Homo sapiens: one gene and its partners. The protein of the gene in region 5 purifies or fractionates together with the protein of the main gene of each other region. This does not show direct contact. Each region holds a gene or a part of one and is shown on either strand. Other genes may lie near its edges.

Region 1 (2,827 bases), on a different chromosome or scaffold from region 5:
AAGTGTTTCTTGAAAACTGAGACCTAAGTTATCATTAACTACCTGAAATAATGTTTAAATTACTTTTTAATTCATATATTTGCTTAAAGTAAACCCAAAGACACCCTGATAAAAGTTTGCAAGTTTTTAGTACCTTTAGTGATGCCCTCCGTGCTAATGTCCAAATTAAGATTAACTGAAGATATAAATACTAAGGCTTGACTTCTTAAAAATCAACAGTCTACTGTTGATTTTTAAATGAAGCTCATACCCATTTCAGATTATCAGTTTACTGTTGATTTTTAAGAAGTCAAGCCTTAGTTCTCCAATCTATCTCTGCACTCAGACTCTCCTACCCTAGTATCAAATGAGAGGCACTATTGGGTAACCTTCAATTTTTCTCTTTTGGAAAAGTTATCTGGAATTGAAACAAAACCGAATTTTTCTTAAGATTCCTTTTAACCATTTATCATTTATTAAATGCACAACCAACATTAAAGAAAAAAGACTGTAATACTTTGTAGGTAGAAATAATATATTTTATTTCATCCCTGAAAACAAAAACAAAAACAAAAATGTCCACATCTAATAGGAGAGACTAAACAATTATTCCAAACTTCTACCTGGCAATGGCATATAATTAATTTCTTCACATAAAGGTAGACAGTACAGAGAAGAGAAGAGAGATTTGGAAATCTGTCTTTCATGAAACAATATTTCACATATTTATTTTAATAAAATATTGTAATTATTGCTACATGTGGTAGCATATTATAATGACGAACAATACAATATCTAAATTCTATATAGTCTAAATCTAGAAGCTAGCTGCACTTAAGCAGTTACTATAGAGAATAAATACTATGAAATATAGGGCACCATGTGGCAATTAGATTTGCTACAAGGGAAATTTAAATAAAAGTATAATTTGTTTTATACTAGAATTACCCAAGATTAGGGTTCCCTGTGCTATATACAGCTTTTTTCCTGAAAAGATAGTCAATCTTCATAGTTTATATTTTAAATGTTCTTATTTTAAGTGGCCATTATATAAAATGAATATCTAATGCATCTGTTATACAAATTCAAAATTTCATAAAGGATACTCTTATATAATATAATGTTAACATTTTCCAAGCAATTTAATGCAGCACAAAAGTACCTTTATTATATACACCTGGCTAAAGTCCTCAAGAGTTCCATTCTCCAAAGTCCCTTCCTCCTAGACCAATATAATAAAAGCAAAATTAACCCAAATATGGAAATAATGTGCTTTCCTGATAGCATAGACACTCAAAGGATTAAACTTTTAAATGAACATTCATGTATGTGAAAAATCATGAATACTTTATTGTTACTCTCATCATAAAAATATCTTTTATTCTTCAATAAGTATAAGATTAGAGTTTACAACTATTTTAATGCTGTTATTAAATTGCCCCAATGTTTACGATAGGTAATGGACAGTGGCTGCTACCCATTTCAAGATTATACTCTTATAAGTGTAATTTTTAAAAATATACAATAATTAACCTTCAGTTATTCTGAAGGATAGTGCAAATCAATACATTCTTTGGGTCATGATTTCAAAACATTATTTTCAACATTATATTTCCTTTCTCTGCTCATAATTGGAATAACAAAATATAGTACAATAAGCACATTTTTTCAAATAGCCGTAGTCTAACAGTTACATCTATTGAGAACAAATGACAGAATGATTAAACATTCTTCACTTGTCCAAAAAACGTGTTATATACTTAAATAAATGTGTTATAGAAATGAATCCATGTTTTTCAGTGTTTTCATTTCAGCTTGATCTCAAACACAAAAGATTTATACAAAACTCACCTATCTGCTTACCACATCAACCAAATTACCAAATTCTCTTTAAGGACATAGTACAGCATTGAACAGACTTGCCTGAAAGCAAACAAATAACTTTAAAATTTTTATGTACAGAATTAGAGTTCCATGAATCCAGCATACTCCTTGAAAATGTGTAGAGCTTTTATTGTAAAGTATTGCTCTGTCCTAAGCCAGCAATTATAAAGCTTTTCTGCCATAGGATATAATCCACAGTGGATGGAGCAGCACAAGGTGATTTTCAACTGCTATCTGATACTGCCCGAGACATTCGTTCTTTTATTTGTGGTTACTGGCACCAAATTCCCACTAGTACCATTGGTGGTGTTGGCTGCTGAGCCATTCACAACAATATAGTCAACTTTGTTCTCCAGCTTCACCAATCGTTGCAAAATGTCATCCAGAAGGACAGCAATTGTTCTTTTCAGATCCGCTAGGGGAATAAATCAGAATAAAATTAACATTAATAGAGCTCTTCATTTTTGTGTTTTTACAGTTTGAAGGAAAAAGGTGAACAACTACTGGGTCATCTGAGGGAAAATGTACTAGAGAGAATGCACTCATACTACAAATAGGAAAAGCCTAATTTTTTTTTTTTTTTGAGATGGAGTTTCCCTCTGTCTCCCAGGCTGGAGTGCAGTGGCATGATCTCGGCTCGCTGCAGCCTCCACCTCCTGGGTTCCAGCGATTCTCGTGCCTCAGCCTCCTGATTAGCTGGGATTACAGGCGCCCACCACCACGCCCAGCTAATTTTTGTATTTTTAGTGGAGACAGGATTTTACCACGTTGGCCGGGCTGCTCTTGAACTCCTGACCTCAGGTGATCCGCACTCCTCGGCCTCCCAAAGTGCTAGGATTACAGGTGTCAGCCACTGCTCCTGGCCCTAATTTTTAAATCAACAACATCATTTACAGAGTTTCCAAAAGGAATTTCAGAGTTGTAAATGTGGGGGAAACTCTCGCTTTTCTAGTGCGATATAATG
Region 2 (3,500 bases), on a different chromosome or scaffold from region 5:
GCTAATTTTTGTATTATTAGCAGAGACAGGGTTTTGCCACGTTGGCCAGGTTGGTCTTGAATTCCTGACCTCAAGTGATCCGCCTGCCTCGGCCTTCCAAAGTTCTGGGATTGCAGGTGTGAGCTACCATGCCTGGCCTATTCACTTTTTTTCTGTTTCCTTTGATCCTCTTGCCTATCCCGTCTGCCCTGAAACTTTCTTCTTGCCATGATTCTCTTTCATTGTGTCCCCCAACTCTGGAGATCCCCAGGTTGAGTCAGCCTCCTTCCCGGACTTCATATCCTCCTAAGAGTGGGCATGCCCCAAGGTTGTGCCATTGATCCTCGAATTATTTCACTGTATGCTTTCTCCTTAGGAGTCACCTGCTTTTATGACCTCCCTTTCACCTTTATGATCATGACCTCAGATCTTTTTCCAATCTAACCCCTTCACCTCTAAGTGCGTGGCCCATATCTTCAATTCATGTTCTGACATCTCCTCCTGAAATAAACTACCTTCATATAAAACTTGTCTTATACTGAGTTTCTCATGTTTCTCCCAAACCCCTTAACTAAGTTCATTGACAATACTTAACATCACAGAAAAGTTTGTGCCTTTTGACCTAATATTCTCACTCATGCTAATTAGCCCTAAGGGGAAAAAAAATTCTGAAGGTAAACACACACACACACACACACACACACACACACAGAGTCTATATACTCTGGAGCCAAATTTCCTGGATTTAAATCCATCTTTGTCACTTACTGTGTGATCCTGGGCAAATTACATAGCCTCTGTGGTGCTTTGGTTTTCTGATGTGTAAAGTTGGGACTATAATAATGCCTAATTTATAGGTCATTGTATAGATAAATGAATTATTATGTAAAGCACTTACAGTAGTACTGGTACAATTTAAGCACTATATAAATATTAGCCATTACATTGGGGCTTACTTTATAATATTTAATAACTGTGAAAAATCTAGAAGGATTATTTACATAAAATTTAGGTCAACTTGATGGAATATATGTAAGCGATTAAAGATCATGGCCGGGCACAGTGGTTCACACCTGTAATCCCAGAACTTTGGGAGGCTGAGGCGGGTGGATTGCTTGAGTACAGGAGTTTGAGACCCAGCCCGGGCAACATCTCTACAAAAATTAGCCAGGCACGGTGGCTCATGCCTATAATCCCAGCACTTTGGGAGGCCGAGGTGGGCGGATCACCTGAGGTCAGGAGTTTGAGACCAGCCTGACCAACATGGCAAAACCCCATCTCTACTAAAAATACAAAAATTAGCCAGGCGTGATGGTGGCCACCTATAATCCCAACTACTCGGGAGACTGAGGCAGGAGAATTGCTTGAACCCAGGAGGCGGAGGTTGCAGTGAGCTGAGATTGTGCCATTGCACTCCAGCCGGGGTGACAGAGCGAGACTCCCTCTCAAAAAAAAAAAAAAAAAAAATCGCGCCACTGCACTGCAGCCTGGGTGACAGAGCGAGACTCCATCTCAAAAAAAGAAAAAAAAAAAAACTCGTGCCACTGCACTCCAGACTGGACGACAGAGCGAGACTCCGTCTCAAAAAAAAAAAAAAAAAAAAAAAATTAGCCAGGCATCGTGGTACACATCTGTAGTCCCAGCTACTCAGGTGGCTGAGGTGAGAGGATCATTTGAGTCTGGGAGGTTGGGGCTGCAGTGAGCTGAGATCACACCACTGCACCCCAGCTTGGGTGACAGAGCAAGACCCTGTCTCAAAAAAAAAAAAAACAAAAACATAATTGTGAAGAGTATGGTAACATGGAAAATGTTTATGATGTATTTAAAAGTTATGATAATATTTTTGCACGGTAAGGTTAGGGAATGATGTCCTCCCCGTTATTGTTATAATTTTGTTTATGCAAAAATAAAAATCTCAGAAGAAAAGGGTTGCTCATCTAAATTTGCTTTTAGTATTACCATCACTCTTCCAGGTTTGAAATTTCAGTCATTCTTGACTTTATCTCTCTTTCCCCACCACCAGTCAAAATGTTTCTTAAATTCATTTCTTTATGATTTTATTACTGATACTGTGTCCTCCTAACCTTAAACCTAGACTATTGAATTAGTGTTCTGTTTGACTTGTTTCTTTTTTCCATTCCACCTTTGTGTAAACGGTGACCCAGGTCTCATCACAGACTAATTTTTCTAAGTTACTATTTTGTACCCATGATGTTTCTTGCTCAAAAATCTTCATTGCTCTTTGTTCTTTAGAGGTTGAACCCCAAACTCATTAGCTTGTTTTTTTTTTTGTTTTTTTTTTTGAGACAGAACCTGGCTCTTTTGCTCAGTCTGGAGTGCAGTGGCGCGATCTCAGCTCACTGCAACCTCCACCTTCCAGGTTTAAGCAGTTCTCCTGCCTCAGCCTCCCAAGTGGCAAAGGACTACAGGCGCACGCCACCACGCCTGGCTAATTTTTTGTATTTTTAGTAGAGACATGGTTTCACCATGTTAGCCAGATGGTCTCCATCTCCTGGCCTCGTGATCTGCCTGCCTCATCCTCCCAATAGCTTGGCGTTTTGTTTTGTTTTTTGAGACGGAGTTTCACATGTGTTGCCCAGGCTGGAGTGCAATGGCACGATCTCAGCTCACTGCAACCTCCACCTCCTGGTTCAAGCAATTCTCCTGCCTCAGCCTCTCAAGTAGCTGGGATTACAGGTGCCTGCCACCATGTCTAGGTAATTTTTTCTATTTTTAGTAGTGATGGGGTTTCACCATGTTGGCCAGGACGGTCTTGAATAATTCCTGCCCTCAAGTGATCCACCCACCTTGCCTTCCAAAGTGCTGGGATTACAGGCATGCGCTACTGCGCCCGGCCTAGCTTGGCATTTAAAACCTGCTGTGGTTGGCCCCTTTCTTAACTTTCCAATTTTGTATTTTAGCTACTCTCATTACTAAACGTGTAGTTCCAACCAAACAGTCTGTCTAGAGATCCTCTTCAAGTTCTGCCACCATGCCTTTGCTCACACTATTCTCTTGCTTGGATTTGCCTTACCCCTTCTTTCTGCTTATTCATGCCTTCCTCTTACTTCACTGTCCACCTTCTCTTGAGGCCTTTCTTGGCCGCTTGAGTTCTTACTGATTATTCCTGCCCTCTGAACTCCTGTAGTACCAATTGGATATAGCAGTTATTTATAATAACTTTGTTACTTGTCTGTCTATATCCTTTATTTACAAATAGACAGCTGTTTGAGGTCAGGGGTGAGTTTTTACTTCTGTGTTCATAGAACAGGACAATGCTGTCAGTATGTGGTGTGTGTGTGTGTGTGTGTGTGTGTGTGTGTGTGTGTGTGTGTTTTGTTTTGTTTTTTCAGACAGAGTTTCACTCTATTGCTGAGGCTGGAGTACATGGCATGATTTCAACTCACTGCAGCCTCAACCTTCCAGGGTCAAATGATCCTCCTGCCCCAGCCTCTGAGTAGCTGATGTGTACCACCACGCCCGGCTAATTTTTTTATTTTTTGTAGAGATAGGATTTTGTC
Region 3 (3,500 bases), on a different chromosome or scaffold from region 5:
GAACATTGGATACCAGTCTCTCAGGGGTTCTTCACAATGAGATATTGAAAAGAAAGTGCCTAATGAATACTAGATACTCAATAACTTAGTTTTCTCCCCCAGAGCCTGTTCTTACCGCTTAGCACCCTTACTAACCTTCCCCTCCCCTTTTTCTAAATGTCTTCAATTTCTAGCCTCTATAGTATTAACTTCTTTCTACCTGCCTCATACTGTTCCTTAACTTTTTCTCTTATGTCAAATTTTTCCTCCTCGCTTGACCATATTACAGAACTAGCACTATGGTTTACAGTTTTTTTTAATCACCCTTTCCCCCACCCATGCATCCATCCACACAAAACCATACTTGCGCTCAGAGCGTGACGATGTACTTGATTGGTAGGCCAACTTCATGTGTAGGAACGAGTCAGTGCTAACCCTACTGCCATCCACTCACTAATCAGTCACCACTGTTGCTTATCTGCAACACCCCATGATAATCCTTCACCAAATTATGGATATCCTGCTTCAAAGGACGAGAGTCACAAACAGGACTCTGCTTGACAGCTCTGTACTACCACCACATCAGCCACCCTTCTTCCTCTCCCCTGTTTATGAAAGAACTAGGTTCTGCAGAACCAGTTTCCTCCCAAGAGTCAGAAAACCCTTTCTGTTAAGGGCCAGACAGTGATTATCTTCATCTTTGCAGGCCATACATTTTCAGTCACAACTGGCCCATTCTCCCGTTGTGGAATGAAGACAGCTATATATGATACGTAAACAATAGGCATGGCTGTGTTCCCATGAAACTGTATTTACAAAAAAAGACAGAGGGCTGATTTGGCCTGCTGAGCCATAGTTTGCTGATCTCTGGTCCACCCCATGTTCAGTGTTTCCCAAACTTGTCTGTATAATGAAATTACCTGGAGGCATCACAAAATACTTATGGCTGTGTCCTACCCCCAAGGGTTGTGATCTAATTAGCCTATGGCATGGTCTATGGGATTTTTAAAAGATCCCCCAAAATTAAGAAATAAATACAAAGATCTCCAGGTGGTTCTAACGTACAGATATATTTAAAGACCACTGCTCTATACTGCTTCCACAATTATCTTCTTAAACAAAACACATCTAGCCCTGACCCCAGTGTGCATAAAGACTACTAGAATTAAGTCCTCACTTAACATCATCAATAGGTTCCTGAAAACTGGGACTTTAAACAAAACAACAGATAGCAGGCCCTCCAATAAAGTCATTTCCTTCAAATCACTGGTTATAATGTTGATGAAAAAAATTGGTTTCATTTTACATAATTTCATTTATAGTCCTAGTTTCCAAGAACCTATCAACGATGTTAAGTGAGGACATACTGAACAAATTTTCCCTTGACCATCAAATTCAGTCTCTGACTGATAAATCCCTAACATGTCTTTCCTGACCTCCCCAGGCAGTACTTGTCCCTGGTTCTACCACAGCACTCCATTTATTTACCTACCCACTCATTCATTCACCTATTTATTCCTTCACTCATTCATTCTATAAATAGTTATGTGAGTACTCATTACTTGCTAGGCACTATCTAGGTGCCCACTACACAGTGACAAACGATACTCAGTTTTCTGCAATCCCAGTGCTTACATTCTAGCATCCACGTACACCTCAATTAGCACCAATAGAATTGGAATTTGTGTAATTATTTTTAATATATTAGTTGTAATTATCAAAAGATTGGCAGCAAGATCTTTGACCACAAGCTGGCCATCTCTGTATGCCCGACACCAAAACTAGCCTACAGAAGACACCAGATGAGTGACTGCTAACTGTATAAATGCAGCCACTTTGTAGGTTGTGTATCCAATTTTTTTTTTTTTTTTTTAAGACAGAGACTTGCTCTGTCACTCAGGCTGGAGTGCAGTGGCATGATCTCGGCTCACTGCAGCCTCTGCCTCTCGAGTAGATGGGACTACAGGCATGGGCCACCACACCCGGTTAATTCTTGTATTTTTAGTACAGACAGGGTCTCACCATGTTGGCCAGGTTGTTCTTGAACCCCTGGCCTCAAGTGATCTACCTACCTTGGCCTCCCGAAGTGCTGGGAGCCACCATATATTGTTTTAACATGTCTCTCATCTCAATGAGCTCTAGAATGTTCATTCAAGGTATTCCTTCTGGAAATATACGACATATAGCAACATGGCAACTTGACTGTTGGGTGGGAAGTCTCCATGGGCAGTAATCCTAAGTGACTGCAGGGGATGGAAGCGTCCCTGCTCAGCCAGCTATGCCAATATAGAAGGGATTACAGGAGGGCTGGAGCTAGAAGCAAATTTCAGTGAAATGAAAAACCCAAGTAGAGTTAACAGACTCAGCTGAAAGTTGGCTAATTGAAAAAGGATCAGCTCAGGGCTTTCAGGAAATTTATTCTATCCAAATTGAATTACAAACAGGAACCTGCCCTGTTTCAAGATTTAGCAAGATTGATGTTGAGTAGGCAGTGGTATGAATTTCAGCAAGAGACAGGGAATTAGGAAAGTCAATAATGTTTTGTGCTCCAGATGTTGGAAGCACCTGTAATAGCAAAGAATAAGCTCCTTAGTTTGAATTTTCTGGCATTCATTTATGAAGCCTCTGGAGCCTTCAGCGACAATGAAAACATATTATCCTTTTCACAGTGTATGTATTTAGCTCCTGAAAATAATCTTCTTATCTCCTGTTTAGTGAATTATCACTTTCATTTTCCTCGACAAAAAATTATACACTAATAGAGGTAATACTTTAAGAGTTTACAATTTCTTTTTTGTATTCTGATTTTAAAATTGAAAAGTAATCTCCTTACTCCTTGAGCTCAGCCAGTGAAGCTGAAATCCTAATGTCATGGCCCAGTAAGTACAGAGATGTAATTAAATCACTCCATTGAACTAATTCACCAAGAGGGCCACCACTGAAAGCTGTCTCTGCAATCTTAAATCCAGATTCCTTGGTCAGGAGTCCCAGGTGAACGAGGACCTGGAAAACAAAGAGGCATATACTGATTCACACTGAACCACATACAAAAGGCACAGTAATGCGCCAAGAAATGATTGACCAATCCCAAAGTCATGTTTACATCCTAACAAAATCAAAGGGTGGGGAATGCTGTTTTTCTAGAAGGTACAAAGGAAGGAAATCATTTTTCATTGTGGTTTTAGAGAAACAAAATCACTGCAGCCCTTGGTATGGCTATGAGTACAAGGTATGGACAGATAATTCCACCTTTTAAAAGCACAGTGTATTTGTAAAATCGGGATTAAAGGAAGGTAAGACAGGACAGTATTTTCTAACACTATTGGTCTTTTATCTACAGCTAAAATACTTCTAACCTCTTACCATGGAAAATTTCAAACACATGGAAAGGCAAACATGACAATATAGTCAATGCCAAAGTAATTACTGTGTAGCTTCAACAATTATTAATGCATATTTAATCTATACCCCCATTTTCTCCCAACCCCTCTAGATTATCTCAAAACAAATTCTAGACATAT
Region 4 (3,500 bases), on a different chromosome or scaffold from region 5:
TCAAAGCTCAACTCCATTAGTGCAGAGCCATACAATTAATACCCCTACTTATAGGGTTAGGAATGGCTACTGCTACAGGAACCAGAATAGCCAGTTTATCTACTTCATTATTCTACTACCACACACTCTCAAAGGATTTTTCAGACAGTTTGCAAGAAATAACAAAATCTATCCTTACTCTACAATCCCAAATAGACTCTTTGGCAGCAGTGAATCTCCAAAACCGCCAAGGCCTAGACCTCTTCGCTGCTGAGAAAGGACTCTGCACCTTCTTAGGGGAAGAGTGTTATTTTTACACTAACCAGTACGAGATGCCACCTGGTGTTTACAGGAAAAGGCTTCTGAAATCAGACAATGCCTTTCAAACTCTTATACCAACCTCTGGAGTTGGGCAACATGACTTCTCCCCTTTCTAGGTCCTGTGGCAGCCATCTTGCTGTTACTTGCCTTTGGACCCTGTATTTTTAACCTTCTTGTCAAATTTGTTTCCTCTAGCATCGAGGCCATCAAGCTACAAATGGTCTTACAAATGGAACCCCAAATGAGTTCAACTAACAAATTCTACTGAGGACCCCTGGACCAACCTGCTGGCACTTTTACTGGCCTAGAGAGCTCCCCTCTGGAGGACACTAAAACTGCAGGGCCACTTCATTGCCCCTATCCAGCAGGAAGTAGCTAGAGCAGTCATTGGCCAAATTCCCAACAGCAGTTGGGGTGTCCTGTTTAGAGGGGGGATTGAGAGGTGACAGTGTGCTGGTAGCCCTTGCAGCCCTCGCTCACTCTCGGCGCCTCCTCGGCCTCGGCGCCCACTCTGGCCGCACTTGAGGAGCCCTTCAGCCCGCCACTGCACTGTGGGAGCCCCTTTCTGGACTAGCTGAGGCCAGAGCCAGCTCCCTCAGCTTGTGGGGAGGTGTGGAGGGACAGGTGTGGGCGGGAACTGGGGTTGCGTGTGGCACTTGCGGGCCAGCGCGAGTTCCGGGTGGGCATGGGCTTGGCAGGTTCCGCAGTCGGAGCGGCTGGCCGGCCCCACCGGCCCCGGGCAGTGAAGGGCTTAGCACCTAGGCCAGCAGCTGCAGAGGGTGCTGCTGGGTCCCCCTGGGCCGGCACCGTGCTCGCTTTCTCACTGGGCCTTAGCTGCCTCCCCGTAGGGCAGGGCTCAGGACCTACAGCCGGCCATGCCTGAGCCTCCCCCTGCTGCTGTGGGATCCTGCACAGCCCGAGCCTCCCCAACAAGCGCCACCCCCTGCTCCATGGTGCCCCGTCCCATCGACCACCCAAGGGCTGAGGAGTGTGGGCGCAAGGCACGGGACTGGCAGGCAGCTCCACCTGTGGCCCCAGTGTGGGATCCACTGGGTGAAGCCAGCTGGACTCCTGAGTCTAGTGGGGACTTAGAGAACCTTTATGTCTAGCTAAGGGATTGTAAATACACCAATCAGCACTCTGTATCTAGCTCAAGGTTTGTAAATGCACCAATCAGTGCTCTGTATCTAGCTAATCTAGTGGGGACTTGGAGAACTTTTGTGTCTAGCTCAGGGATTGTAAACGCACCAATCAGCACCCTGTCAAAATGGACCAATCAGCTCTCTGTAAAACAGACCAATCAGTGCTCTGTAAAATGGACCAATCAGCAGGATGTGGGTGGGGCCAGATAAGGGAATAAAAGCAGGCTGCCCGAACCAGCAGTGGCAACCTGCTCAGGTCCCCTTCCACACTGTGGAAGCTTTGTTCTTTCGCTCTTTGCAATAAATCTTGCTGCTGCTCACTCTTTGGGTCCACACTGCCTTTATGAGCTGTAACACTCACCGCAAAGGTCTGCAGCTTCACTCCTGAAGCCAGCGAGACCAGGAACCCACCAGGAGGAATGAACAACTCCAGACGCGCCAGCTTAAGAGCCATAACTCTCACCGTGAAGGTCGCAGCTTCACTCCTGAGCCAGCGAGACCACGAACCCACCAGAAGGAAGAAACTCCGAACACATCCGAACATCAGAAGGAACAAACTCCGAACACACCGCCTTTAAGAACTGTAACACTAACCGCGAGGGTCCATGGCTTCATTCTTGAAGTCAGTGAGACCAAGAACCCACCAATTCCGGACACAATAGCACCAGTAGTTAAAACCATTTCTGCTGAAATGGACTTTAGGGAAGTTATAAGAACTACCTTTATGAAATTAATCACTTTAATCACAGATATTGTTCAGCATACAGCATTCACCAAGAGACTGTGACAGGCTACCCTTTGTCTGTTCTGTTTTGGTTCAAATAACCAGTTTATTTTAACTGTATAGACCACATGATTGTGTTTCTCTCAAGTTAGCTGCTCAGTAATTTCAAAAATCAAATCTGTGGGTTGCCTGCATCAAGCATCTGAGGTACATCTTGTGTAATCTTACTCCAGGCTCCATCTTCTCATCTTTCTTCCTTTTAAATGATTTTCTTATTCTGTTCACATATTTATAAACCACCATGAATCATTAAATGACTTACAAATTCACATTTTCTTTTACTTTGGCAGCTCTTTGTGAATTCTAACACTGTTTTCTAACTGTTAGGCTCTCTAACAGGAGCTAAGCGCTCCTGATTTGTATTAACTGGGACCTTGGAGAAGTCACTTCACTTCTTTGTGCTTTTTCTTTTTTTCTTTTGAGACAGGGTCTTTTTCTGTAACCCAGGCTGGAGTATAGTGGTGCAATTATAGCTCACTGGACTCAGTGTAACCTGAAACTCATGGACTCAAGCAATCCTCCTGCCTCGGTCTCCTGAGTAGCTTGGACTACAGGTGTGCACCAAAGAGGCCTCCCAAAGTGTTAGGATTACAGGCGTAAGCCACCATGCCCAGCCTCTCCCTATACTTTCTTAAAATGAGAACAAGGCCAGGCATGGTGGCCTTGTAATCTCAGTGCTCTGGGAAGCCGAGGCGGGAGGATCATCTGAGGTCAGGAGTTCGAGACCAGCCTGACCAACATGGTGAAACCCCGTTTCTACTAAAAATACAAAATTAGCCAGGCATGTGCCTGTAATCCCAGCTACTTGGGAGGGTGAGGCAGGAGAATCGCTTGAACCTGGGGAGTGGAGGTTGCAGTTAGCCGAGATTACGCCATTACAATCCAGCCTGGGTGACAGGAATGAAACTCTGTTCCCCCACTGCCACCCCTACAGCCACCCACTGCCAAAAACAAAAAAAAAAAACAAAAATAGTACTCACATCACAGGGTTGGTTATGAATTAATATATATGAAGCATACAGAACTATGCCTAGCGCATATTAACTGCTATGTAGGCATTAGCTGTCATTACTACCGAATTCACTGATTAAAATAACTAGAACAAGGAATGCACTAATCCTTCCACTTTGACACTGATCCAACAACACTATGGTTTATGCTGTTTGTAGGCTTTGTTAAATGCCTTGTTGAAGATAACAGACATATGACATTCTTCCACTGGCTAAAGTACATAAACCTCTTGCTTATATAAGTAAGAGTTAAGCATCATAAAT
Region 5 (3,500 bases):
TGGTCTACTACTTGGAGAGTCAGATGTGTACCCAAGTCTCTACTGCAGTTAACATTTACCTGCCAGGCACTAGGCTAAGTATTAGCAGCAGGTTCAAAGTGCATAAGATATAGACCTTGTCCTCAAGACTTAGTTTATTAGGAGAGACATGAATGTAAACACATCATGAAAATCCATTATAATAACTGCAATAATTGATATATCCTGAAGATGCAGAGATTGTCTAGAGGATAAAGTTATATATTCTGTTTGGTAGGGGATGATGTGGAGTTCAAATGGATCAGAGAACACTTCGCTGATTAGAAGTCAGTTGATCCACTAGAAGTCAAGGTGAACAAGGGGATTCAAAACAGAGGCAACAGCCTGTAAAAGGGAACAGAGGCATAAAAAAGCAGGATATGTTGTGAGAATATGTAGTTTGAAATTACCAAGCAAAAAGTTTAAGGACTCGTAGCCAGGCACAGTGGCTCATGCTGTAATCCCAGCACTTTAGGAGGCCAAGGCCGGCGGATCACTTGAGGTCAGGAATTTGAGACCAGGCTGGCCAACATGGTGAAACCCATCTCTACTAGAAATACAAAAAATTAGCTGGGTTTGTTGGCGTGTGCCTGTAATCCCAGCTATGAGGGAGACTGAAGCAGGAGAATGAACCCGGGAGGCAGAGATTGCAGTGAGCCGAGATCATGCCACTGCACTCCAGCCTGGGCAACAGAGCAAAACTGTCTCAAGAAAAAAGAAAAAAAAAAGTTTAAGGACTCAGAAGAAAGAGAAGGAGTGGTTGGCTGGAGAGAGGTTGGTAAGTCTCAGATTTTTAAGGACTTCATATTCCATGGTAAGGAGCTGGGACCTTAGTCTCTAGGCCAGTCTGAGGGATAAGGGATACTTGAAGGATTATAAATAGGAGAGTAAAATGAGGGACTGTTATGGTAGCTGGATGGCAGTGGAAAAGACAGGAAGCTCAATAGCCAGTTAAGGGGTTATTGCAAAGTAAAGCCATAGGTGATGAAGACTAACTTAGTGTTTTGGAAGTAGTAAGATAAATAAGGAGTATTCAGAACATAGAAAAGACAGGATTTGGAGAATGTATTGAATATGAAAATTAAAAAAGATAACATATAGCTCCAAGGTTTCTGGTTTGAATGCTGAGTGGATTGATGCTGTTCTTAGCTGAGATGGAGACTATTAGGAGGAAGAGTAGGTTGGGCAGAGTTTGAAAAGATTGTAGTTGAAGAGGTCAGGAGCTATGTCCCTACTGCAGTTTTCTGCAGTATCTGGCATGTCATGCACATGAGGGAAATACCAATTATATGAATAAATAGGAGGTAGGTTTTCGTTTGGATATTTATAGTGGGCAATAAGTTAAATGTTCTAGAATATAGATTTGGGGACATTAATGTCAAATTGATATTTAAAACTTAAGGAACAGAGAGAGGACTCATGCAGAATGAGAAAATAAAGAGGGCCAAACTCCGAGGAATGCCAGCATTTAAGTGACATGCGGACACCAGAAAAGCATTAAGGAGACATCATTAGCGAGATGGGATAACTAAATGCACATGACTCATAGAAAGGAAAGAAAGTTTGAAGACTGAGAAAGAATGGCAACATCATGATAAGCTAAAGATTAAAGGATACCCTTTAGAGTTAAGAATGAGAATATGTTTGATAATCTCAGAAAGGAGTTAGTTTCAGATATCAGATTACTTGGAGATAAGACCTGAATGGAAAGTGAGTAAAGGGCAGATAAAGAACGTTGATACTGTTTCAGGGAGAGATGGAGAAGGTATGGTAGCTAGAGGAAGTAGTATTTTATATTTTGTTTTTCAGATGCGAGAGTTTTGAGCATGTTTGTAGGCCAAGGGCAGTAAGCCAGTTAGTAGAGAGGAAGATAAAAAAGATACACTGGGTGTGGTGGCTCACGCCTATAATCCCAGCACTTTGGGAGGCCGAGGCGGGTGGATCACGAGGTCAGGAGATCAAGACCATCCTGGCTAACACAGTGAAACCCCATCTCCACTAAAAATACAAAAAATTAGCCGGGCGTGGTGGCGGGCACCTGTAGTCCCAGCTGCTTGGGAGGCTGAGGCAGGAGAATGACGTGAACCTGGGAGGTGGAGCTTGCAGTGAGCTGAGATCACGCCATTGCACTCCAGCCTGGGCAACAGAGCAAGACTCTGTCTCAAAAAACAAAAAACAAAAACAGACAAACAAACAAAAAGATACACTAAAGCCAAAGGAAATGGAGCCAAGTATCTGAGAAGGGAAGATTTGTTTTGAGTTGGAGTCTCGCTCTGTCTGGAGTGCACTGGCGCGATCTCAGCTCACTGCAACCTCCACCTCCCAGGTTCAAGCATTCTCTTGCCTCAGCCTCCCGAATAGCTGAGATTACAGGCATGTGCCACCATGCTCAGCTATTTTTTTGTATTTTTAGTAGATACGTGGTTTCACCATGTTGACCAGACGTGGTTTTACCATGTTGGCCACTCCTGACCTCAAGTGATCCACCTGCCTCGGCCTCCCAAAGTGCTGGGATTACAGGCATGAGCCACTGCACCCAGCTAGAAGGGAGGGTTTTAAAGGGGACATTGGATTAATAGTCGGGCCTTAGCCCCTTCCTCTGGGGCTGAAGGGAAACCAGTGAATGCCATGTAGAAAGGTATGTTAGTGTGGGCAGGAGATGTGTGGAGGGAAATCACATACCATGTTGTCATATGGTCTGGGATCGGCCGTGAAAGGACTGCAAGAAAACCACTGAAAAGCAAGAACAAGCTAAAGAACAGTGACAAGGGTTTGAAAGTTATAATCCAAAGTCCCCCCTTCTTATATGCACATGTTGGCTTATGTGTATCATGATGGATCATGAGAAGTATCATTGGAGGATAACAGAGTGTGAGTTAAGTCTAGCATTTAACTGAGAAAAAGGAGATGTTTTGACTATGCTTTGAATGATGGGGTAAAGTTGAACAGGCAGATATTTAAATTCAGGTGAACATTTATTAAGTGCCTGCTAAGTGCCAGGTATATGAACGTGACAAACATGGTCCATTTCTTGTAAGGATCTTCCATTCCATTTCACTTCACACACTTCCAATGAGACAAGTAGGGCCACAGAGGTTTAGAGGTAGTGCTATAAGAACAGAGATGAATAAAGAATTGATTCTGATTAGTTTGAGAAGGTCAAGGGAAACCACAGGAGAGTGGAAGAAAGTGTTCTGGATAGACAGTGTCCACTTGGCTTTTTTTCCCTACATTTGGCCAATTTTGGTTTAATGTGACTGAGAGAAGCAAGCAAATGTCTTCAAAAGTGGGGAAAATGCATTCCTGAAAATAGTACCCAATAAAGTTTATGTTTATCCTTGGCAAAATTGTAAAGCGAGTTGTTTGTAAGCATTTAGAAGAGACAGGTAACAGTTAAGATGAAGTCATACCAACCAAACCTCACTTCCTAATTCTATTGATTTGCAGTTTAGGATGTAGCTTTCCAACTCATCAGTGGGTTT
Region 6 (3,500 bases), on a different chromosome or scaffold from region 5:
AGTGTTTTGAGCAAAGTAGTATGTGGTTGACAAAGAAAAATGAATAAAGAGATTATTTCACCATGAAGTATGACAAAAATACATCATGAAATCAGTATATATGTGCTAATAATGTCTTAACAACTCTCAGAAAGATTTGCTGAGCATACTTTGTAGAGAGGGAAGATGAATACCTAAATTCTAGAAACAAGTATCATTCATTATATTACCATCTGCTTCTTAGGAAAGAACTAGCAGATTATTAAAGCTAAACACAGCAGAGGAAATGTCTACTGTGCAGAAATGGTTAAGTCTGTATCATTCAACCAGTAGCTAGTTATGCAGTACCTGGTGGAGTACAGACTATGTGGGAAGATAAGATGAATAAACACAAAGCAACAGGAACTAATACCTGATTGTAATTAACTAGGCATCATCAGTAATATACTAGGAGTGTTGAAGGAAGCTCAGAAAGGACAGAGAATGATGGGCTGGGAAGAATTATTCAATGGAGGAGGTGGAACTTGAAGTGGATCTAGGAGATGAAGGAGGGTCTGAATACAGGAGAGAGGGCAAGTGAGGTTCCTGGTGAGGGAGGCAAAGGCACCCAGGTGGGAAATGTACCAGGTGTGAGTGGGACAGAACACACACTGACTTCACTGGACACAAAAGAACCATAATAAATGAGAGATAGAAGGTGGAAATAAAGCTTAGCAGGGAGCAGTTATGGGGTTCCCAAAGTCCTTTTTTTTTTTTTTTTTTTTGGGGACAGAGTCTTGCTTTATTGCCCAAGCTGGAGGGCAGCAGCATGATCTTGGCTCACTGCAACCTATGCCCCTTGGGTTCAAGCAATTCTCGTGCCTCAGCCCAGCTTCTTGGGAGGATTACAGGCATGAGCCCCTACACCTGGCTAATTTTTGTATTTTTAGTAGAGACAGAGTTTGACTATGTTGGCCAGGCTGGTCTCTAACTCCTGGCCTCAAGCAATCTGCCTGCCTCAGCTTCCCCATGTTCTGTGATTACAGGCATGAGCCACTGCGCCCGGCCCCCAAAGTCCTTTTACAGACATGATTAAATAAGGAGCTAATGAAAGGTCATGAGCAGGAAAAAGACACAATAAAAGCCTAGTTAAAGATAGGAGATTAGTGGGACAGATCCAAGTACAGTATGCTGGAACTCAGGGAAGCCAGTTAATAGGCTTTGAAAAATGAGGTTTAAAAGATGATGAGGACAAACACTAGGGTAATTATGGGCAGGTGGGCAGAAAAGAGTTCCCACAGCAGGCCTGCTGCTGCTGTCCTTAGAAAGTCTTGCTTGCAAGGTTGGCCCTTGGCAGGTGTCTGGGACCTTGTTTATCCAGAGGGGACCTCACCATTCCCTAACTCCTAAGAATGGCTCACTGTGCTTCATGCCTGTATAAAATATGTGGTTTATGTTGACCACCTACCTTCCTTCTGAGAGTTTGGAATTTTGGAACATTAGCCAAGGGCACCTACATGACCAGCCTCTAACACTGAATAAAGTCTCTAAGGAGCTTCCCTGATAAACAATATTTCACACATGTTGTCTTAATTCAATCTGAATTAGCCTGTCCTGTGACTCCACAGGAAGAGGACTCTTGGAAGCCTTGTGTCTGGTTTCCTCTGGATTTCACCCCATGTGCTGATTTTGTTTTGCGTCTTTTGGCTATGATAAATCACAGCCATGCGTATGACTATAATGTGTCAATCTTTCTAGTGAATCAATGAACCCGATCTTGAGGATCTCAAATATAGCAGGGGAAAGATGTCTAAGTGAAACTAATCACTGACATGACCTGCAAGTAACCAAATATGGAAATAAAGAAAAGGCATGACTCAAAGGCAGTTCTAAGAATTTAGGATTGTAAATAACCCCTCAAATGGTATTGTCCTATTCAAACAGGAAAAATTTTTTTATTTTCACTTATTCACGTGCACACACAAACATGCATACAAAGTAGAAACATATTACTCTTTCGTAAGATTAAAGTAACAAAATGCAAAATAAGTGGAAATGAAAATAATAATAGCTAACACTTGTATAGTGCTTTCTCTGTCCCAGTCTTTAAGATTAAAGCAATTAAATGGAAAATAAATGGGAATGAAAACAATAACAACTAACACTTGCATAATGTTTTCTCTGTGCTAGGCACTGTTCCACGTGGTTTAATTCACCTAATCCTCACAAAACTCTGTAAAGCAGGTACAAAACGGACTCATGTCCATTTTGCACATGAGAAAACTGTGATACAGTGAGGTTAAATAACTTGTCTAAGATCACAGGGCTGGGATTCAAACTGAGGCATTCTGGCTCCCAAGCCTTTGTTCTTAACTATGCTATAAAAAGAAAATGATTGTAACAATGAAGGATCACCCTAACAATACAGGAGTAAATGTGTGGGGTGGCCACCCAGGCTTCCTGCCTTCTCAAGTCTTCAGTTTATTTTATAACACAAATTAAAGTCTACTTTTAGGCTCTGCATGACAATGAAAATACAGCAGTTAACATCCTGGTTTTCTGTATTAACTAATGAATTCCAGCTATGCCAGCCTTCCTCCCAGGCATAACACTTAAAAATCAAGTTATTTATTTAAGATTGTTTCTATGTGAACAATTGGTAAATACACAAATTTTTCCCCAAACCATCTTAATAAACTTAGATATATCTAAGTGGAAGCAAATATATTACATATTTGGTATAATTTTTAAAAAAGGAAAATGCTAAAAAACATCTAAAAGTTGGTTTTCTGTAATCTTTACTCTTTCCCAGCCTAAGTGCAACATCTCAAAACATTTTAAATCACATGAGATTTATCTTTAACTTGGGACAAACAAAATTGAGTTTCCTGCAGAAACCAATCTTGGCCTACGAGCCCCTAATGCAACAGTATAAGTACGTCCATCCACAAACTCTATTTCTCAAAAGTGAAGACAGTAGGCCTATAGCCTTAACTTATTTATAAGGCTTTATAAAGCTTTTACCTTTTAAAAATTGTATCATTCAATCAACTGACTGTCTACATTTTTGGTGCAGTCCACAGCAAAAAAGTCCAAAAAGCAAACATACTGGTTCCTACTGTCTCACCATTTTAGTTCCGCTCTGAAAGCAGAGTCTTATTTTCTGTTTCCCCTACCAGGAAAGTCACCACTGTAGTTCAAATTCTTAAACTTAAATTTAAATTAAAGAGCTTAAGGTAATTATTACTTCAGCAAAATACTAATGACTTCATACAAGAAGTAGTACCATTTTCTATTAACCATTCACGAGACATTAATCCATAAAGGTTTCTAAGCAGAACCCTAAGCTGACCACCCAAACCACTAATGACCTGTGACTCCCAGGTGTAATGGCATTAAGCTTTGATATTCCACATTGGCTTAATACTCTTTGGAGTGCTGACCGTATCTAGCTTTGTCATATGCAGTTTGATTACAGTGAACTAGGTGGCTATCTGTGAATGACCCCAGGTAAATATATCCCAGAAGGTGACAAAAAAAAA
Region 7 (3,500 bases), on a different chromosome or scaffold from region 5:
AACATTCTAGAGAAGACTCGGTCAGGGTCAGCAAGTGACATTTCTCTTTGAAAAGGTTCTGTTTCCTCCTTATATGTATAAAGGTGCCAAATAATTGATTTAGAGTTTCTGGAAAGCAATTTGCTAGGGATGAGACTGAAGAATTGCTGATAATGACCTCCTCATATAAGGAATAAAAGGCAAAGACCCCAAAAGATTCTAGTTGGATCCTCCTCTCATTGGGGGCTGGTGTCCATCCATCTAATCTAATCTATCTATTATCTGTCTATCTATCTATCTATCTATCTATCTATCTATCTAATCTATCCTATATCTATCATCTGTTTTCTATTTATCGATTATCTATCACCTATCTAATCTATCCTATCATCTGTCATCTATCCTATCCCTTTTCTTTCTTTTCTCTTCTCTTTTCTTTCTTTCCCTTTCTTTCTCCTATCCTATCATTTATCTATTCTTTCTTTCTTTCCATCTATCTATCTATCTATCTATCTATCTATCTATCTATCTATCCATCCATCCATCCATCCATCCATCCATCCATCCATCCACCACCCATCCAATCAAGATGGGGTCTCACTATATTGCCCAGGCTGGTCTTGAATCCTGAGCTCAAGTGATCCTCCTGCCTTGGCCTCCAAAAGTGCTGGGACTACAGGCGTAAGCCACTGCGCCTGGCTGGGCCCAGGCATTTTAAAAGGAGATGCCCAAAGCTTTTAGCATTTCACACTCCTGAGGATAACAGTCAGTAGTGGGAGCCATCTTGGGGATCAGGGCAACTCAGAAACCAACCAGTCTGTAGACATCCCCAACCCCACGGTCTGACAAGTGGTGGAAGCTCTAGAAATAGCTGGCGTCCTCCAAAGGCCTAGGGCAAACTATGTTGGGAGACAAGGAGAAGGCCACAGGAGGAGGCGTGAGGATGTGGCATGAGCTGCAGCCTCTCTCCCGCCACCTGTCACGTTCCCAGGTGTTCAATGTACAAACACACTCTGCATTTGGTGTTAGAGAAGGCCGCTCCTACGACTCTCCTGAGTTATACTTGGAACAATCCAGTATGGTCTACTTTTCGTTTCCTATCTCTCCTTCTTTCTCTCTCTTTTAGAGTTGGGGTCTTGCTCTGTTGCCCTAGCTGGAGTGCAGTGGCGTGATCACAGTTCACTTCAGCCTCAAACTCCTGGGCTCAAGTGATCCTTCTGCCTCGGCCTCCAAAAGTGTTGAGATTACAGGCATGAACCACCACATCTGGCCTGTTTCCTATCACTTATCTACTTCAAATTAAGGGTAATTTCAGTCTGGAGATGAGCCAAGGGGCTGCAAATAGATGACTGTGTTCCATCTACAAAGAACACAGACGTCGTGAAAGCTCATGAGGAAAGCCCTGGGGAACTCACACGGCCCCCGCCCAGATCCACCACGGAAGGCTGAGTTGTGGGGTGCTCCTTTCCACCAAGGGACAAAAGCGGGGCTTGTGCCCTTCCTCATCTGCCCAGTAAACACACCGAGCATGACATTCCCAGAGCTCACCGGGACAAGGCTATGCCTGCACAGGAGGCAACCGTCTCTCTGCTGAGACAGGTACATGCTAACAGGACTGCCCCCTCCAGCCAACTGCAAATCCCCTGTTCCACTTGATCTTTTTTTTTGAGACGGAGTCTTGCTCTGTCACCAGGCTGGAGTGCAGTGGCACTATCTCGGCTCACTACAACCTCCGCCTCCCAGGTTCAAGAGATTCTCCTGCCTCAGCCTCCCTAGTAGCTGGGACTACAGGCACCCACCACCACACCCCACTAATTTTTGTATTTTTAGTAGACAGGGTTTCACCATGTTAGCCAGGATGGTCTCAATCTCTTGACCTCATGATACACCGACCTCGGCCTCCCAAAGTGCTGGGATTACAGGCATGAGCCACCGCACCTGGCCCTTCCTCCTGACTTTTATGGCTCATTAGCTCGGTCTCCTCTCTGGGGACCCCACAAGACCCTTCTCTTGAGAAGGCAGGGGGAAGAACACACCTGAAGAAAGAGTTTCTGGAGTTCTTGTTTTCCCTGGCAAGAGCTCTGAGCCAAGAGTTGGCAGCTTATCTCTACTGGTCGCCCTCGGTCCCTTAGCACATAGGCCATCTGGAGGGCTATGTCGGGTTTGACTGTGTGGTGCAGAGCTGTTACCAGGACTAAAGAGTCAATGTTTAACTTGGAGCTTTGCAGATTAACAGCCTGAAGACTAGTATGCAGCAGTAAACAATGTCTTCCCTTCCTTTCGCTCCCGATGGAGTCCTGTGCTGCTGTCTCTGTTTCCTTCTTGTTTGGGTTTTGGTCTCTAATGGTCTCTAATTCTTTTCTTTTTTTTTCTTTTTTTTTTTTTTTATAGAGATGGGGTTTCACCACATTGCCCAGGCTGGTCTCAAACTCCTGGGCTCAAGGTATCTGCCCGCCCCAGCCTCCCAAAGTGCTGGGATTACACACGTGAGCTACTGTGCCCGGCCTAAAGTTTTTACACTGTCTGAAAAGATTTACCTCGTGTATTTGGGACAATAATGCAAACCCAAAATGTGGAAAGGTGATATTTCCACTTGAATTTCTATCAGGATTTAAGACATTTGTTTTCTCATCTTTCAGGGCTTTCAGCCTGCCATGCTTTCAAGCTGAGGAACCACAGCTGCCTGGATACACTCTGTTAGATCCTAAGCTGAAAAGAGATCTGGCTGCACCGTTTTCTTGGACTAAAACAATCATTCTGGGCATTGGTGATGTCAGGACTCAGGCCACGTCAATCATTAATCAAGTGTGCAAAGTCAGTAAAGAGCAAGGTGTCAGTGTTAGACAGAAGACACAGTGGGAGACACACCTGAGCTGGTATCACATAATCCGCCACATCCCAGATCCGGAATCCAAGTTTAGAAGTGTTGGTCACAGCCACGCCCTTGACCTTGGTCGTAACGGAGCTGACCACGGAGTCAGTTTCCTGGTAGCCCTTTTCCCACACAAACACCCACCTATAAAATAAAACAGGCCTCTTAAATTGCCATTAGGATTCAATGGATTTGAATTGATGGGGAAGCTTCTGCTGGCCAGTGGCTGGAAGTACGATGTTGACTAATTACATGACTTTCTACAAGCTACGTACCTTCTAGGGGACTCCATTTCCACTTCTGCCAAATGGGGATGGTAGCACCTAAACCACAGGAGGGTTTGCGGGAAATAAATGAGATGGTGCAGGTAAAGCACTCAGCACACTGATGGCACAGAGAAAACGCTCGATGAATACTGTCTTTATTACATTTGAGCATTTTCTCTTTTTTTTTTTTTGAGACGATGTTTCGCTCTTGTTGCCTAAGCTGGAGTGCAATGGTGTGATCTTGGCTCACTGCAACCTCCGCCTCCCGGGTTCAGGCAATTCTCCTGCCTCAGCTTCCCAAGTAGCTGGGATTACAGGCATGCGCCAACACGCCTGGCTAATTTTGTATTTTTAGTAGAGACGGGGTTTCACCATGTTGGCCA

The links.
Region 1: the proteins of SLC35A5 (region 5) and CCDC126 purify together in Homo sapiens (affinity purification with mass spectrometry; one large-scale study listed by BioGRID and IntAct). This does not show direct contact.
Region 2: the proteins of SLC35A5 (region 5) and STX12 purify together in Homo sapiens (affinity purification with mass spectrometry; one large-scale study listed by BioGRID and IntAct). This does not show direct contact.
Region 3: the proteins of SLC35A5 (region 5) and MGAT5 purify together in Homo sapiens (affinity purification with mass spectrometry; one large-scale study listed by BioGRID and IntAct). This does not show direct contact.
Region 4: the proteins of SLC35A5 (region 5) and PI4K2B purify together in Homo sapiens (affinity purification with mass spectrometry; one large-scale study listed by BioGRID and IntAct). This does not show direct contact.
Region 6: the proteins of SLC35A5 (region 5) and WDFY1 purify together in Homo sapiens (affinity purification with mass spectrometry; one large-scale study listed by BioGRID and IntAct). This does not show direct contact.
Region 7: the proteins of SLC35A5 (region 5) and P2RX4 purify together in Homo sapiens (affinity purification with mass spectrometry; one large-scale study listed by BioGRID and IntAct). This does not show direct contact.

What each region holds. Positions count from the first base shown.
Region 1 is NC_000007.14:23,642,382-23,645,208, reverse strand, and holds the end of CCDC126 (coiled-coil domain-containing protein 126 precursor), read right to left. Parts: intron 2,279-2,827; coding exon 2,094-2,278; 3' UTR 501-2,093; downstream 1-500.
Region 2 is NC_000001.11:27,797,219-27,800,718, forward strand, and holds part of STX12 (syntaxin-12), read left to right. Parts: intron 1-3,500. UniProt on the Homo sapiens protein: SNARE promoting fusion of transport vesicles with target membranes. Together with SNARE STX6, promotes movement of vesicles from endosomes to the cell membrane, and may therefore function in the endocytic recycling pathway.
Region 3 is NC_000002.12:134,341,072-134,344,571, reverse strand, and holds part of MGAT5 (alpha-1,6-mannosylglycoprotein 6-beta-N-acetylglucosaminyltransferase A), read right to left. Parts: intron 2,983-3,500; coding exon 2,813-2,982; intron 1-2,812. UniProt on the Homo sapiens protein: Catalyzes the addition of N-acetylglucosamine (GlcNAc) in beta 1-6 linkage to the alpha-linked mannose of biantennary N-linked oligosaccharides.
Region 4 is NC_000004.12:25,237,033-25,240,532, reverse strand, and holds part of PI4K2B (phosphatidylinositol 4-kinase type 2-beta), read right to left. Parts: intron 1-3,500. UniProt on the Homo sapiens protein: Together with PI4K2A and the type III PI4Ks (PIK4CA and PIK4CB) it contributes to the overall PI4-kinase activity of the cell. This contribution may be especially significant in plasma membrane, endosomal and Golgi compartments.
Region 5 is NC_000003.12:112,565,045-112,568,544, forward strand, and holds part of SLC35A5 (UDP-sugar transporter protein SLC35A5), read left to right. Parts: intron 1-3,500. UniProt on the Homo sapiens protein: Probable UDP-sugar:UMP transmembrane antiporter involved in UDP-alpha-D-glucuronate/UDP-GlcA, UDP-GlcNAc/UDP-N-acetyl-alpha-D-glucosamine and UDP-N-acetyl-alpha-D-galactosamine/UDP-GalNAc transport from the cytosol to the lumen of the Golgi.
Region 6 is NC_000002.12:223,935,336-223,938,835, forward strand, and holds part of WDFY1 (WD repeat and FYVE domain-containing protein 1), read right to left. Parts: intron 1-3,500. UniProt on the Homo sapiens protein: Positively regulates TLR3- and TLR4-mediated signaling pathways by bridging the interaction between TLR3 or TLR4 and TICAM1.
Region 7 is NC_000012.12:121,216,629-121,220,128, reverse strand, and holds part of P2RX4 (P2X purinoceptor 4), read right to left. Parts: intron 3,175-3,500; coding exon of another isoform or gene 3,127-3,174; intron 2,996-3,126; coding exon 2,848-2,995; intron 1-2,847. UniProt on the Homo sapiens protein: ATP-gated nonselective transmembrane cation channel permeable to potassium, sodium and calcium. CTP, but not GTP or UTP, functions as a weak affinity agonist for P2RX4.